Linked DNA regions of Homo sapiens. The protein of the gene in region 2 interacts with the protein of the main gene of each other region in a pairwise test. Each region holds a gene or a part of one and is shown on either strand. Other genes may lie near its edges.

Region 1 (8,370 bases), on a different chromosome or scaffold from region 2:
GAATATTAAGTGACAAAGAGGATAAATGAATAAAATGACAAATCATTTTATTCAAAGAGGAAGACAAAGAAGGATTGCAATTATTCATTCAGCCCAGAATTATGGTTAAAAAGCGTAGACTCTAGAGCCAGAGTGTTTGTGTTCAAATCCTGGTCCTAAAACTTAATAGTGGCGCCGGGCGCGGTGTCTCACGCCTGTAATCCCAGCACTTTGGGAGGCCGAGGTGGGCAGATCACGAGGTCAGGAGATCGAGACCATCCTGGCTAACACGGTGAAACCCCATCTCTACTAAAAAAAATACAAAAAATTAGCCGGGCGTGGTGGCGGGCGCCTGTAGTCCCAGCTACTCGGGAGGCTGAGGCAGGAGAATGGCGTGAGCCCGAGAGGCGGAGCTTGCAGTGAGCTGAGATCGCGCTACTGCACTCCAGCCTGGGCGACAGAGCAAGATTCTGTCTCGAAAAAACAAAAATAAAAACAAAAAAAACTTAATAGTTGCATGACTCGGTCAAGTTTCTTAGGCTCCTGGGCCAGGCGCTATGCTCAGCCTTTAATAAATAGACATATTTCAGAAACACGGAGCATCTATAATGTGTCAGACACCATGGGGCACAGAGAGATCACTAACACAGCAGAGGCGGACGTTTTAGTGGTTAAATGGTCTCTAGAGTCAGACCAGGATGTTTCAGATCTGGCTTTGAAACTTAACTATCTGTGTAATATTGGGCAAGTTTCTTAATCTCTTAATGACCTATAAAATGGTGACAAAATATTCTCTTCCTTGGGTTGTGAGGGTCAAATGAGGTCACCTATGTAAATTACTTAGCACAGTGCCTGGCAGAGAGTAAGGGCTCAATAAATGATAGCTATGATTAGTTTTATGCTTTCTTATATTGGAATCAATGGACAGTGTTCCAGGCACATCTACCTGCAAGACTGTGTTTAGTCCTTATAAAACACTAAGCCATTATTATTTTCTAAAATTTATTATTTGTACGAAGCATATAGAGGCTTGGAGGGGACTTGTGACTTGCTTAAAATCACAGCTCCTAAGTTGGGGAGCAGGACTCTAACCCAAGTTATGAGAGTCTTTCTCTTGGAGTCCCCTTTGTCCCTCTCCTCACAGCCGCTCATCCATTCACGAACAGCTGTTAACACAAGAACGACTGTACTAAGTAATAAGGTCATAAAGTGTCAAGGGGCAGCACAGGAGAAATTCTGGATGAGGGATGTGGAAAGGCTGCAAGATGGCAATGAAGTTAGGCCTTCATAGTTGTTTGTGGGCTCTCGGGAGCTGGTGACTAAAGAATACGGTGGGTGAATTAAGGTGGGGAATGGGCTGAGGAGATCTGGCTTCCAGTCCTGGCTCCGCACTAGGTAGCTGTGGAATGTTGACAAGGTCGTGTCCCTTCTCTAGGCGTGTTTCCTAAGGGACTGGTGCAGCGGGATGGGAGGGGCGCAGGGTAGGGACCGCTTCCAAGGAGAGAGAGGACAGGCGGGAGGGGCTGATGCAGCTGGTCACTCCGCTGGAGTGGCCAGACTTCGCGGTGCCTAGGGCCGAGTTGAAGAAGAGCATGTAAGTCTGTTGTGGGCCCCTCACCAGCGCTGGGGGGCAGCGAGGTCACTGGGCAAGGATGCTCTGGGAAGTGACCTTGGTGCCCGGGAGGGGAGCACCCTGTTGTGATGCAGGCGGGGCAGCGCGGAGCCGGCGGCGCTGATTTCGCACTCTGGCCGCTAGAGGGCGCTGCCTTTCAGCCAAAGCCGAGTGACCCCCTACCTGCCCCGCGTTGGCCCGCGTCACTCCAGCCATGGGCCATCCAGCGAGCATGGGGGCTAGCCAGGGAAAGTCTAAACTAGGAGGGGAGATGAGGGGGTGCAAAGTTGGGCCTGGTGGGTCCTGGGGACGCAGCATGTACTAGAGCGGCACCTGGCCCTCAACAGAGGGGAGAGCGGGTGGTCGTGAGAAGTCTGGGAATTTTCCGGGCCCACTACACGCCAGGGGCGGGTCTCCCCTCTTAAAACGTTGTGAGCCCCAGCGCGGGCAGGGGGGAGGGTGCCCGTGGAGTTGGCATCCTCATCTTTGATGGTCCCCGGGGCTCCTGAGCTGCGCTGGTGGCCCCAGGGCTCGGTGCCTCTCTCAGGCGACAGCTCACAGACGGCGGGAAACTCTTCCCTCCCGCACCTTCGGAGGCGGTCCTGGAGTCTTGTGGACTCCTGGGTTCAAATCCAAGCTTTGTGTGACCAGCACATTGCTGGACCTCACTCAGCCTCACATTCCTCTTGTGTTTAAAACTACCTCATAGGAATGTGGTGACGGTTAGATGACACATAAAGCTTTGCCAGAGGTTTTCTGGGGAGGGTGGGGACAAGAGGGCAAGGAAGAGTCTCCATTTCCTCTGCCACCGGAGCCCGGATCTAACCTCTCAGAGGAGCTGGAAGGTCAGCTCTGAGCTCCACAAATACCTCTGTATACAGATCTCCCACGACACTGAAAAAGATGCCCAGAAAGATCTCATTTGCAGCTGTGAAGGGGCTTCTTTTTCAATCTCCACAACCCCAACTGCCTTAAAGTAGAACCAGACTTGTTAGTAGACAGAGGTTTGGGCTGGGGGGCCCTTGAAGCTCTTGTCTGAGATCTCAGGCTTCCTGCTCAACACACCAAAGCAGGTGCCTGACATAAAGGCGCCATGGACCTCTTTGGTGGTCTGGGAAGGCATATGGAGTCCCTTCTCAGAACAACATTTAAAAATTAATAAGATACATGGGATAATAAAGGGAACAAATTATGACAAGACAGTTGTCAAAACATTAGAAGAATGTGTGGTAGAGCAGTACACATGCTTCTTTAGATTTGACATCAGCCTAATAACTGTTGTAATTCTGTAGTAGTGCTGAGCGTTAAGGACATTTGGAGAAATCTATAAAAACTGTAATGAGATTTGAAAATATTTGTGTTTTCTATTGATGGCAAATTCTATTGTGGTTCATTGTCTACATTCATAACTGAAGCAAGTGCTGACTTTCAATTAAAGATTAGTGAAAATAAAGATGTATTTTTCCCCCCAATTCACAAATCCCATGAATAAATCTATTCACGGACCTCCAAGAGGTCCATGACGTGAACCACCTAGGACATGAACTTCCCCCGGAGGTGCCTCACAGGGCCAGCTCCAAGCCCCGTGGCACCTCCCGGCTTGTCTCAGGCCAATCCTTGAAGAGCTCCAGCAGATCTAAACTTTGGTAACTTTCCTCTGGTAATTTGAGGAATTCCTCCATTTGAGGAATGTCAGAATGGGGCCAGGATTCCTGAATGCCCATGGAAGAAAAGCGAGCATGCTGGTCTGGCGGGCAGAAATAACCTTCTCCCCAGGCTCCAGAGGGCAGAGGACATTTCCCTCCAAAAGGCAAGTTTCTCAGGGACCTCATGAGAAGCCTGTCCTCACCTGAGCAGTTCTGTCAACCATCCCATCCCTTCACCTGGACCCCAGGTCCCCAGCAGGCCTTTTTACCTCGAGACAGAAGTTCTTCTTTCTTGTTCTCAGACTGGGGGCTCACGTTGAAATGGCTCTCAGTCCTCAGATTGTCCTTGCATCTTGTTAAAACCCTATCTCTCCAGTTTCGTCATTGCTCACACTTTCATAGCTGTTATTATATTCGCTCTTTGAAAACCACAGAATGGGTTGTTAGAAGTCATAGATCTTCCGCCACCCCCACTGTGGATTTTTTTCTCCTTTCTCTCCTGCAACTGGTCCTCCATCTCCTTCTCCTTTCCTCTCCCTTGTTTTGTCTTTTTGGTGTTAGAAATAGACTAGGGTGCTGAGGGGGCTAAGAAAAACCACTTCTTAAAATTCTTTTCTTTACCCTGGGGAACAAAGATTTTGTATTTGCTAATTCATAATAAGGAAAGGACTGATGATAGAATAACTAGAAGATAAAAGGACAGAATGTCCTCTCAAGTATAAAGAAAGGTACCAAGTCTTCTCCTGAGAGTAGGTTTTGGTTAGAAGTAGGACAGAGAACACAGCTGCTCCAGGCTGAAAGGGAAGAAGGTCAGGGAGCTGTCAAGAAGGCTTGGGTGAGGGTGGTGGTGAGCAGGGGAGGCAACGAGTGGGGGCACCAAAATGGTCCTGATGTGGTGGGGGGAGGATGAATGACTGACCTTATCTTCCCACCCACCCATTTTTTTTCTTTTTCTTTTTTCTTTCTTTCCTTTTTTTTTTTTTTTTTTTGAGACAGGGTCTTGCTCTGTCACCAAGGCTGGAGTGCAGTGGGGCAATCATGGCTCACTGCAACCTTGACCTCCTGGGGTCGAGTGATCTTCCCACCTCAGCCCCTCAAGCAGCTAGGACCACAGGTGTACGCCACCACACCTGGATAACTTTTTATTTATTTATTATTTATTTATTTATTTATTTATTTATTTATTTATTTATTTAGAGATGGAGTTTCGCTGTGTCACACAGGCTGGAGTACAGTGGCGTGATCTCAGCTCACTGTAACCTCTGCCTCCTGGGCTCAAGTGATGCTCCTGCCTCAACCTTCTGAGTAGCTGGGATTACGAGAGCCTGCCACCATGCTGGACTAATTCTTGTATTTTTAGTAGAGACAGTTTCATCATGTTGGCCAGGCTGGTCTCAAACTCCTGACCTCAAGTGATCTGCCTGCCTTGGCCTCCCAAAGTGCTGGGATTACAGGCGTGAGCCACCACGCTCGGTTGATAATTTTAAAAATGATTTGTATGGATGAGGTCTCCCTATGCTGCCCCGCCTGCTCTTGAACTCCTGGGCTCAAACAATCCTCTGGCCTTGGCCTCCCAAAGTGCTGGGATTACAGGCCTGAACCACCACTCCCAGCTTCCCATCCATTTCTATTCTGTTCTGTTCTTCCTTGGTCAGTGATGGCTTGGGAGATTACAATTGTTCCTAAATTCTAGGGTTGTGCCCTTAGATGGCAGGAACATTAGTCTGAGAATTAGAAGCATTGGGCTCTAAGTCCTGCAAGGCTGGGCCAGGCCCTGTGCCAAAGGGCACAGCACACCAGGAAGCCCCACGGTTCTGGAGGAACACCTGTCATGATTGCCACCCAGTGCCAGGCTACCCAGGAATTCAAGGGTGGAGGGAGGGTGGGGGAAAATTTTTCATAACTAGTCTAGAGACTCTCTTTTCCTTCTTATTCCTGTTATTGTAGTACTCTGTGGTCCTAAAAACAGTAGGGTGCTCTGGGGTTTGAGAACTCCCAGATGGCTCCACTGAAGCCATCGTCAAATGAGACAGATATTAGAAATATTTCTTCACTCCAAGCCAGGCGCAGTGGCTCACACCTGTAATCCCAGCACTTTGGGAGGCCGAGGCAGGTGGATCACGAGGTCAGGAGATTGAGACCATCCTGGCTAACACAGTGAAACCTGTCTCTACTAAAAATACAAAAATTAGTTGGGCCTGGTGGTGGGTGCCTGTAGTCCCAGCTACTGGGGAGGCTGAGGCAGGAGAATGGTGTGACCCCCCGGGAGGCGGAGCTTGCAGTGAACCGTGATTGCGCCACTGCACTCCAGCCTGGATGCCAGAGTGAGACTGTGTCTCTAAAAAAAAAAAAAAAAGAAAAAAGAAAAGAAATACTTCTTCACTCCATCAAAGTGTTAGCTTTCACTGCAGAATGAGTCCATTCTGGGAGCCTGGGGGTTGGGAACCCATGTTGGGAAGAGGAGTGTCTCACCATCATCCTGGTCACAGGACCAGTCCACCACAGCCCACAGGATACTGGGTCCCACTGGCATAAACTGCTAAACTGGGCCTGGTCTCTGCTCTCCCAGTATCCTTATTTGCTGTCTCTATGATAGTGTTCAAACAGATGACCTCTCTGCTCTCTAAAATGGAGACTTCTCCCTCCTTGGGTCTATGAGAACCTTTCAAAGGTTGGCTCTGAGAGCACTCAGCATTCCTTATCATCCAGGAGCTGTAAAACAGTGATTATTAGCAACATGAAGAGAAGTTAAAGGCAACCAGAGTTGTGGGTGAGTGAGGTTGGGGCCACTTAAGTACTAGCTGACACACATGTATTCATACTGGTTATTGCAAAAAACCTCAAAGTTCTGCAAAGACCTCAGGGCTCAAAAGTGAATCGCAGCGCGCTTCCTTTTCACCAGCCATGTAGTGTCTGTCCATCCTGCAAACGGTTGCATGCACAGTTTTCTGCAAATGTTGCTTTTGGTCGCTTCTCACAAGGTTATTGTGTGCCAGGCCCTGCGGGGTTGACGATGACTGAATGGGGCCTGCTGTCAAGGCGAGCACACTGCTGAGAGAGGCCTGCATTCCCGTGAGATGAAGCAGAAGCAGAATGCACCAAGAGCTCTAAGTACCCCAGAAGTGAGAGAGAACCCAGGAAGCAGGGGAGGTTGGGAGGAAGAAAAGGAGACTGCCCTGTGGGCGCAGACAGTGTTAGGCACTCTGTGTGGACAATGTGACATTTAAATTGAGCTTTGAAAGAAGGCAGGATTTCAAAAGGCAGGGGTAGAGGAACAGTATGAACCAGCAAGGAGCAGGGACATATGGGGCTGGTTTGGAAGTCAGTGAAGCAATGAGGTGGCTGAAATATAGGCTGCCTCCTGGTCATCCACAGCCTCCCAAATATGTATCCTGTGGGCCTTTCAATGTCTAAGGTGTATGAGTCCAGTTACACAATTTAGCAACTGATAGATTGTTTTCAAGATACTAATAGTAAGTGCTCGACATTAAGACAAAGAAAAACTGAGTGGACATTGAATTGTATTTCCATCTTACTTCTGTAGAATTATGGGGTTTTGGAAGCAGAAGAGACTGCAGCAGTCTTCCAGTCCCTGGAAGTGTGCAGACACTTGCATGCCAGTGTTTCCCAAACTTGAGCGTGTATTAACATCACCAGCAGGGCATCTTTGAACAATTCGGATGGCTGGGCCCAGCTGCAGAGTTTCTAATTCAGGGACTCAGGGCAGGGGTGGGGGTGGTCCAAGAAGTTGTATTCCTAACAAGTTCCCTGGTGCTATTGTTGCTGTAATGCTCCTTGCGAACTGTTCAGGGTAATACCTCTTGCATCCTCTGCTTGAATCTGTCTACTGTTCTGCAGCTCACTACCACCCAAAGTATCCACACAATATCCCTTGTGGAATACTTCCAGTAAAATTCTTCCTTGTGCTGCTGTCAGTCCTGCCTGCCTTTAACTTTCAATGAAGTCTGCTGAGGGCCCCACATGGGAAATGTCTATGGATGGCAGGCAAGTCTCAGGCACATGAGGCAGACTGCCTGGATTTACGTCCTGACTCCACTTACTACGTGACCTTGGATAAGTCATTCAACCTTTCTGTGTTTTCCTCAACTGTGGAATGGGGATAATAATTGCAGTTATATCACAGAACTGCTGTTTAGAGTAAATGAGAAAGTGTGTAAAACAATTGGCATGGTGCTTGGCATATAAAAGTACTCAGGTGTGGGCTAGTATCATTACCTAGTGTTCTTTTTCTTTTTCTTTTTTCTTTTTTTTTTTTTTTTGAGACAGAGTCCCACTCTGTTGCTCAGGCTGGAGTGCAGTGGCACAATCTTGGCTCACTGCAACCTCTGTCTCCTGGGTTCAAGTGATTCTTGTGCCTCAGCCTCCTGAGCAGCTGGGATTGCAGCCACCGCTCCCACGCCCAGCTAATTTTTTGTATTTTTTAGTAGAGAAGGGGTTTCACCATGTTGGTCAGGCTGGTCTCAAACTCCTGACTTTAGGCGATCCACCTGCCTCGGCCTCCCAAAGTGCTGGGATTACAGGCGTGAGCCACCGCGCCTGGCCAGCATTACCTAGTTTTCCTTTCTACTCAGGAGTCTATCAACTCTCTGAAGAAAGTTAATCATTCTAAAGTTTCTCCTTTCTGGGCTAAATATCCCCAGCTCCTGCAATTATTTCTTACAATTATTTTAGTGCTTTCACGGTTCCAATATTTTGTTTGTCCTTTCTCCTCTTCTCTGAACAGAGTCCAGTTTGTCAGTCTCCCTTGTTAGATACATGGCTCAGACCTGCTACCTGCCTCGGCTTAGTCCAAGTCTCGTGTGTTCACTGCAGCCAAAGGTCACTTTAGCTTTGTAGCTATTTCTACATTTCACTGGACTGTGTTAGACTTCCAGGCCACGAAGGTGCCAGAGGCTACACCCGCATGTAAAGAGTAGAGCTCATTCTCCTGTCACATTTCCCCTTGTTGCTTAGCATGTGTGAGTTTGGGGAGTGTGGGTGAGGGAGAGTAACTCTGACCTTGGCCCAGTTCAGGGCCTACTGTGATGGTTGGTGAGCAGCCCCAGTGGCTGTGAGGGAGCACATTTGAGGCTCCAGGGGCTGGTGCGAGGCCCAGCTTCTCCCCTGGAGAAG
Region 2 (8,013 bases):
AGGCAAGGTCTTTGCCTTAACTCAAATTCTTCCTTTAGATAGATTGGTTGTTTTACTTTAAATGTTTAATTTTTTTAAAAAACTAAACAGAATTGCGAGCTCCAGTAAGGAAACAACTGTAATGGAGAAACCCGTAATCAGAAGAGGAGGTGTTTTAACAAGGGACCTGCAAACCCTGTGAAATTTTATTCAAAATATTGTACACTTATATGTTTGAGTATATTATTCTGGACCCATAAATCTTAACAGAATCTCAAAGATCCTACAAGAGAAAAGCCTGCTCTAAAACTTAAAAACCAGACATTGTGTATATACTTAGGAAATTCTTACATTAGAGTCTTCGGAGGTTGAATTGAATTACCTCTGAGGTTCTTTGCACTCTTAAGGTTTTTTTTTTTTTTTCAAACCTCTGAGGCTCCATGGGGTTTGCTATTACAGAACTGAATTGAATATTGAAGGGATAGAGAGTGGAGCCTGTACACAGAGGAGATTAGAGATAAAAGAACGTAACTTCTCTATCTCTTGAAGTTAACATAGCTGTGTCTGCCATTTAGATATGACCTAAGTTTTGTTAAAACCCTAAGCATCCCCCAACTACCATCCACCCTTCCAGAGCTTAAGAAGAAATACTCAGTTGAGAATTTAGTGTAAGGAGTTACTGGAGTCCTAACTTTATGCAGTTTTTCAGTTTATACTATCCTTAGATTTGTCCACATGTTCATGTTTTATTTTGTGAATGTTTTTGAGGGAGTTTTTGTTTTAAGGGGAGAATTGACGTTTGGTAACCTAATTGCTTGCTGATACGCTGGTGCAGTGACCTAAATATGTGGAATTTTCTGTGCAACAAGCTCCACATTGTATCCATGCTGTCAGTTGACTATCCTGATAGCTGCACAGTACTGGAATTCTAGTCGCTCATCTGGCAAGCAGTTTTAGAAATCGCCAGTGATTTTTCAATATATTACATTATAAATAATGTTACCCTATAAGTACCAAGAAACAGATTACTTGGAAGCATTTCTTATATTGATGCTCTTTTCATTATTTAAATATGAAAACTGATGTATAGTAAATTGAAATGTTCTATTTTTACCTTGAGGAAGATCCCGTAATGTCAGCAAATTATATCTGAACCTTTGTAAGAGTAAATATTTGCCTAAGGCAAGGGAGGCCTGGCCTGTTTCTTCAGACCAATGGATTTTTAAATTTGAACTTTACTTATAACTACAAAGTTTTTAATAGTAAAGTTCATTAATTTATAATTCATATCATTTTGTAGATGGAGCTTTATAATTAATGGCAAACATTTAAAAGTTCTTTTTATAAAATATAAGTAGTAGACTGTTAAATTAATGGAGAATTCGTATTTAATATAGTGACCGTTTTAAGGAACACTTGAAATTTCAGAAAAGGTAGTGAAACTGAGGCCGGGTGCGGTGGCTCATGCCTGTAATCCCAGCACTTTGGGAGGCCGAGGTGAGCGGATCACAAGGTCAGGAGATAGAGACCATCCTGGCCAACATGGTGAAACCCCGTCTCTACTAAAAATACAAAAATTAGCTGGGTATTGTGGCGTGCACCTGTAATCCCAGCTACTCAGGAGGCTGAGGCAGGAGGTGGAGATTGCAGTGAGCCAAGATCGTGCCACTGCACTCCAGCCTGGCAACAGAGCGAGACTCCATCTCAGAAAAAAAAAAAAAAAAAAGAAGGGGTAGTGAAACTGAAATGGAGAGATAGAGGCAGGATAGTAATTATCCAGTGTTTAAATCACCAGAACTGTAAGATCATGTTTTAGTCACTGAGACTTCCCAAATCTGTTGATGTTAGCAAATTGTTTTTAATGTATGATTTAATACATTAAAGGAAATATACAGAACTGTGGGTTTAACTTCAAAAAGCCAGTCTTACAGGGAAGACCTACACAAACATACATACTCGTAAAAGGAATTTAACAAACAGTATTTCATGGGGAGAGAGGAAGTACAGAGTGGGAGTCAGAGACTTGGGTTCTTGTCTGTGCCGAGCTAACTTGGGGCTTAACCTGTCAGTAGCTTAATTCCATCTTTGTAAACGTGGGAGTGGGAGACTATATCCGCTAAGGGCCCTCCTGACATTAAAAGCTTGATAATTCTCTTAATTATATTTGGGTAAAATTTTATGTCATTAGAAGGAGTTACATTGGGTATACAGTTGTTAAGTACTTAGCTTAATATTCAGTAAGCAATATTTAGTATGATGACTTCATGCTATTAAGAACAAAACTGTTTACCAAAAAATAATAATTGAGCCTTTTTACTTATGGGTTATGTTTACCATGAATTTCTTAGCTAATTCAGTGACATTTTTTCTCTCTTCCTATTTTTGACCACTTTGGCATTTAATGCTGGTGACCACTCATTTCTCGAAATTGTTCCTTCAGCTTTTACACTTTTTTTTTTTTTTTTTGAGACGAAGCCTCGCTCTGTCACCCAAGCTGGAGTGCAGTGGTGCAGTCTCGGCTCATTGCAACCTCTGCCTCCCAGGTTCAAGCAATTCTCCTGCCTCAGCCTCCTGAGTAGCTGGGACTACAGGCGTGCACCACCATGCCCGGCTAATTTTTGTATTTTTGATAGAGACGGGGTTTCATTATGTTGGCCAGGCTGGTCTCAAATTCCTGACCTCGTGATCCACCCGCCTTGGCCTCCCAAAGTGCTGGGATTACAGGCGTGAGCCACCGCGCCCGGCCAACTTTTACACTTTTTTCTTTTTAATACAAGAAAGTGTCTGCTTACCAAAAAAAAAAAAATCAACTAAAAATATTAAAATAAAACCACTTTCCCACCCCTCACACTACCAGGTGTCACGGTATGAGTAACAGTTTGGAGTATGTTTACTTGCTGCTTTTTAAGGAGTTTTTTCTTTCTTTTTTTTTTTTTTTTTTGAGACAGAGTCTCGCTGTTGCCCAGGCTGGAGTGCAGTGGTGCGATCTCGGCTCACTGAAAGCTCTGCCTCCTGGGTTTACGCCATTCTCCTGCCTCAGCCTCCCGAGTAGCTGGGACTACAGGCGCCCGCCACCACGCCCGGCTAATTTTTTTTGTATTTTTAGTAGAGACGGGGTTTCACCATGTTAGCCAGGATGGTCTTGATCTCCTGACCTCGTGATCCGCCCACCTCGGCCTCCCAGAGTGCTGGGATTACAGGCGTGAGCCACCGCGCCCGGTGTAGGAGTTTTCTTTTTTTAAAAACACTTCCTGTGGCTTGCTGATAAGAAGTTAGTTGCTCTTTTCCCTCCTACACTCGGAACTGTAGAATTCCTTTAGGCCCCACCCAATCCTCTGTTCCTCCTGTTTTCTAACCTACTAAACCAGACAGGTGTTCCCTCCTGCCTTCATCTAAACATCCATATTCCCTTGCATGATCATCACACAACCACACCCAACTCCTAAACCATTTTTTTCTTCATCCCCATCCAGTTAGGTCAGTTGCCTTATTATCATTTTTGGATTTACTATGCAAATTCTTGCCCTTATGAATATGTTCTTTTTCATCCTCCACCTAGAATTAGAATGTCCTCTGTCTATCCAGGTTCTGTTTGTGTCTCTGCCTGGTTTGAGTCCTGCTTTTCCACTCATCCTTCTCCGGCTCCTTCGAACATTTTCTTGAGATTTTCTAACCTACATATAATGAATGCTCAGTTAATGTGGTATAAAATATATTGTTATTATTGTTTCTTGTACATTGAGCTTATTACTCCATCATTTGTATCTTCCTATACGTAGAACAGTGTTGGAGTGTTGCTAGTTCAAGTACACTTTGAGCTAGCAATTGCATAATGCTGTGGGAGCTTACAAAGGTTAGTAGCCTCAGAGATGGGTAGGCAGAGAATTTTTTTTCTTTTTTTTTTGGTAGAGATGGGGTTTCACCATGTTGCCCAGGCTGGTCTCAAACTCCTGAGTCCAAGCAATCCTCCCGCCTTGGCTTCCTAAAGTGCTGGGATTACAGATGTGAGCCATCGCATCTGGCCGACAGAATTTCATATTGACTATAGCTTGTAGTGCCAATTTGTTGGCCTTTAACTTGAGATGGGAGCTAGTAAATGTCCACACTTTTTTTTTTTTTTTTTTTGAGATAGTCTCGCTTTGTCACCCAGGCTGGAGTGTAGTAGCGCCATCTTGGCTCACTGGAACCTCTGCCTCCTGGGTTCAAGCAATTCTCATGCTTCAGCCACCCAAGTAGCTGGGATTACAGGCATGCGCCACCATGCCCAGCTAATTTTTCTATTTTTAGTAGAGATGGGGTTTTGCCATGTTGGCCAGGCTGGTCTTGAACCAGGTTGGCCAGAAGGCCTCAAGTGATCTGCCCGCCTTGGCCTCCCAGAGTGCTGGGATTACAGGTGTGAGCCACTGTGCCCTGCCAGATGTCCATACTTAATATTGTACTCCTTGATTCTCTTAAGATGTCCAGGCAGAACCTGCTTCCTGCTATTGCTCTGAGGCAATAGGTCAGTAAGGTCAGTAGGAATGCCACCTGTTAATACGTTTGGAATAGGACTTGTAATGACTTGAGACTGACTGCTTCTGGACAAGCTGGATCCTGTCTTTTTTTACTGAAAGTAGACAAGCAGCCTATGTCTGTCCTACAGATAACCTTTTATTGCCATATAGCCTTCACACATGAGTGTGCCTAATAGTCTAATTGTAAAATGAGTGGTTCAGCTATTCCCAGACCCTAATTAGAGTTTTAGGCTGGTATCTTCTCTCAGTTAATTGACTTTTATACAACCGAGGTATATTTTGTAAATTTCTCAGAGAGAAACTTTTAAAACTTGGACAAGATTTAACATAGAGGCAAGAAAAAGGCAAGTGAAATGTTAGATATTTAGTATTTTATTAGACTATAGTCATGTTAGAACTCATCCTGTAAGTATGATTATAGGAGACTAAGGAAGTATCTTTACACAGTGGCCCTCTGGGATTTATCTTGGTGTTGTCACTTTATATCCTGTGGTGTAATGATTGGGAATGCCTTACCTAACACCTGTCTGAAGGAAGTTGTTTGGGACATGCTGGGCTATTTCATGCTTCACTAACTTACAGGAAATCAGAGAATGTAACCATTCATGTTACAATTAGACTATTTTTTTTCTTTTATATAAATTCTTTGCAGTTGTGGGGATGTATACATTTTGTATAGCCAGTAGAAGGGAGAGGAAATCCCTTAAAGGTTTGGATACCAGTATAGATTTGAATTACTATTTTTTAACTTTTTATTTTGAAATTATTATAGATTCACAGGAATTGCAAAAAAAAAAAGTACAGGGAGGTCCCACATTTGTATGTGCATGTGTGTGTAATTCTATGTAATTTTACCATGTGGATAGCTTTCTATAATTACCACCACAATCAAGACACAGAACTGTGCCATCAGCAGAGGCTTCCCTGTGCTACCCCTTTGTAGCCACACCTTTCCCCTTTCTCTTGGCTGCCACTAATTTGTTAGCCATCATTATTATTTTTATTATTCTAAGAATGGGCTATGAATGGAATCATGCAATATGTAACCTTTTGAGATTGGATTTTTTTTTTCCTTTGAATAATTCTCTGGAGATTCATCTAGGACATTACATATATCAAGTTTGCTCCTTTTTATTGCTAATATTCCATGGTATGGATGTACCACAGTTTGTTTTAACCATTGGACATCTGGAATGTTTCTAGTTTGGGGCTACTATGAATAAAATTGTTATAAACATTCACGTACCGGTTTTTGTACAAATGTTAAGTTTTCATTTCTCTGAGATAGTTGCCCAAGAGTTCTATTTCTGGGTCATATGGTAGATATATGCTTAGTTTTTAAAGAAACCGCTGAACTGTTGTTTGTCCCTTTTTAATGAAAATGTTTTGTAGGATAAGATATTTACTATTACTATGAAATGTATCTGTTGATTTTGGTAGCAATCTTGTTGCCATTAACCTGTCTGGTTGCTTCTACTGGCCTGACTGGAGTGAGAAGGGAATTCCCTTTAGCCTCTGACTTAGGTCATCAGTCATTTTGATGGTTTCGGCCCTCAGCAGGAAATTCCCTCAGCTTCCACAAAACCCACACAAACTGCCCAAGCAAAATACTCTTCTTCACTCTCTTCCCTTCTATTTCTAGAGAAGAGTTAGCCCCAAACCTGAGCCCTGAATCCTATCTTTAGAGAGCCATTTTTCTACCTATGTCTTTAGACCCACCCATCTTACTGGTTTCTGCCTAAGTATTTAAACATGCTCAGTTCTCCCATGTTGAAATTCCCTTCTCTTTGACCTCATCCACTACTGCCCTATCTGGCCATTCTTTCCCAGCCACACTTATTGCCTATGCTGTCTCTCCTTCACTGCCTTACCCTCCCCTTACTTCCCAATATACAGTATTGTAATCGAGCTTCTCTCCCTGACTACCCTGGAACTTTTCTTGCTAATGTCACTGGCAACCTTCTTATAGCTCAGTCTAAGGTAGGTGTTTCAGTGTTGTTCTTACTTGACCTTTAAGTAGCATTTAGCACTCTTGATTACTTGTGTGTTTGTGCATGTGTGTGTAAATACTTTTTTCTTGTTTACTACCCCTTTGATTGCTGCTGCTAGTTGTCCTTTGCTGGTTTCTTCCCCTCTGCATATCCCGTAAATCTTCAGATTCCTCAGATTTCCACATAAGGCTATCTTTCCTCATTTGAGTCATCTCACCCTCCCACTCTGCCAGCTCCCACATCTTTATCTGCATCTTAGACCTCTCCTTTGAGCTCCAGACCTTATATTCATTTGCTTTCCAACTACATCTTCACCAAACTCTTCCACAGACCTCCTCAATCACAGCATATTTAAAACTGAATTTCTTCTCTCCCTAGCACCCTTGCCTTTTAAAAAGAAAAAAACCTGACTCTTTTTTCAGTGAGGACCAGTATGTTAGTACCACATATACAGCAGTTGGAAGTAGTTAAAACCCACTTGCGTGTAATTGAGTTGCCAATTTAACCAGAGTTAACATTCTCCACTCACCATACCAAGCATCCTGACCTCACACCAGTCACCCACAGCCTGCCATGGCCAGTAGGCATCTCATTAGCACTCTAGAACTCTTGCTTCTGTCATCAGTTGAGTTGTGTTGTTCCCATACTGGTTTATGCTAACTATACTTTTATGGCCATACAGTTAAATATTACAAAGCTGAAACTGAGTGTTAAAATGAATTGTTTCTTTAAAACTAAATTGAATGCTTTGGAAAGACTGAAAGATAACTTACTACAAGATTTATCTGCCATGGAATTAAGGAAGAGCAAGGCAACTGTAAAAGGCTGGTAAAATAGTCTGACTCTAGAAAGATTCTGAACTCTGTTTCTCAAGTGTTTAAGATCTCACTTCACTTCAGATAACATCAGTCTGGAAGTAGTAGTCCATAGATGATGAAAGTGATTAATGCAGAAAACATGTGGAATTCGTCAGTAGACCCATAAAGAAAATACTCACTTCAGCAGATTGTTAATAAATGTGCGTTTTTAAGTTAAAATGTTTAAGGTACACATGTGTTATCTTGTGTTCCATATTATTTGTATGCATCTTGTCTGATATGAGCTTTTGCATCTTGTCTGATAAGAGCTTCTGCTGCATCTCTCAGTGATTGCCACTCTTCTCTATTGCTGCTCCCTAGTCGCTATTATTTGCCCTGATTTCCTACATCAGCTTCCCAGTTGGATGTCCGCCCCAAGGTTTGCCTTACCTCTGGTCCCTTCTCCATATTGTAGCCAGTGAGAACTACTGAAAGCATACACCTGATCATTGTCAACCTTTACTTTAAAATCCAGACTCTTAATTAACGAGGACATTTAGATCTGGCCTCAGCTTACCTCTCTAGCCTCATATACTAATTTTTGTGCTGCCATTCTCTTCCCTTAAACTCTATACTTAAGCCATGTTGATTTGACTCACTTTGACAGTTAAGTTGGAGGTCGGGGTGTGTGTTGTCTGTATGTTGGGTCAGAGGGCAGGTGCCATGCTCCCT

Evidence for each region. Proteins that work in one complex are often made in the same cells at the same time.
Region 1: the proteins of CMTM6 (region 2) and CD160 interact in binary tests that used the Homo sapiens proteins (3 or more experiments, as listed by UniProt).

The regions. Positions count from the first base shown.
Region 1 is NC_000001.11:145,714,696-145,723,065, reverse strand, and holds the start of CD160 (CD160 antigen precursor), read right to left. Parts: upstream 3,568-8,370; 5' UTR 3,507-3,567; intron 1-3,506.
Region 2 is NC_000003.12:32,492,290-32,500,302, reverse strand, and holds part of CMTM6 (CKLF-like MARVEL transmembrane domain-containing protein 6), read left to right. Parts: intron 1-8,013. UniProt on the Homo sapiens protein: Master regulator of recycling and plasma membrane expression of PD-L1/CD274, an immune inhibitory ligand critical for immune tolerance to self and antitumor immunity.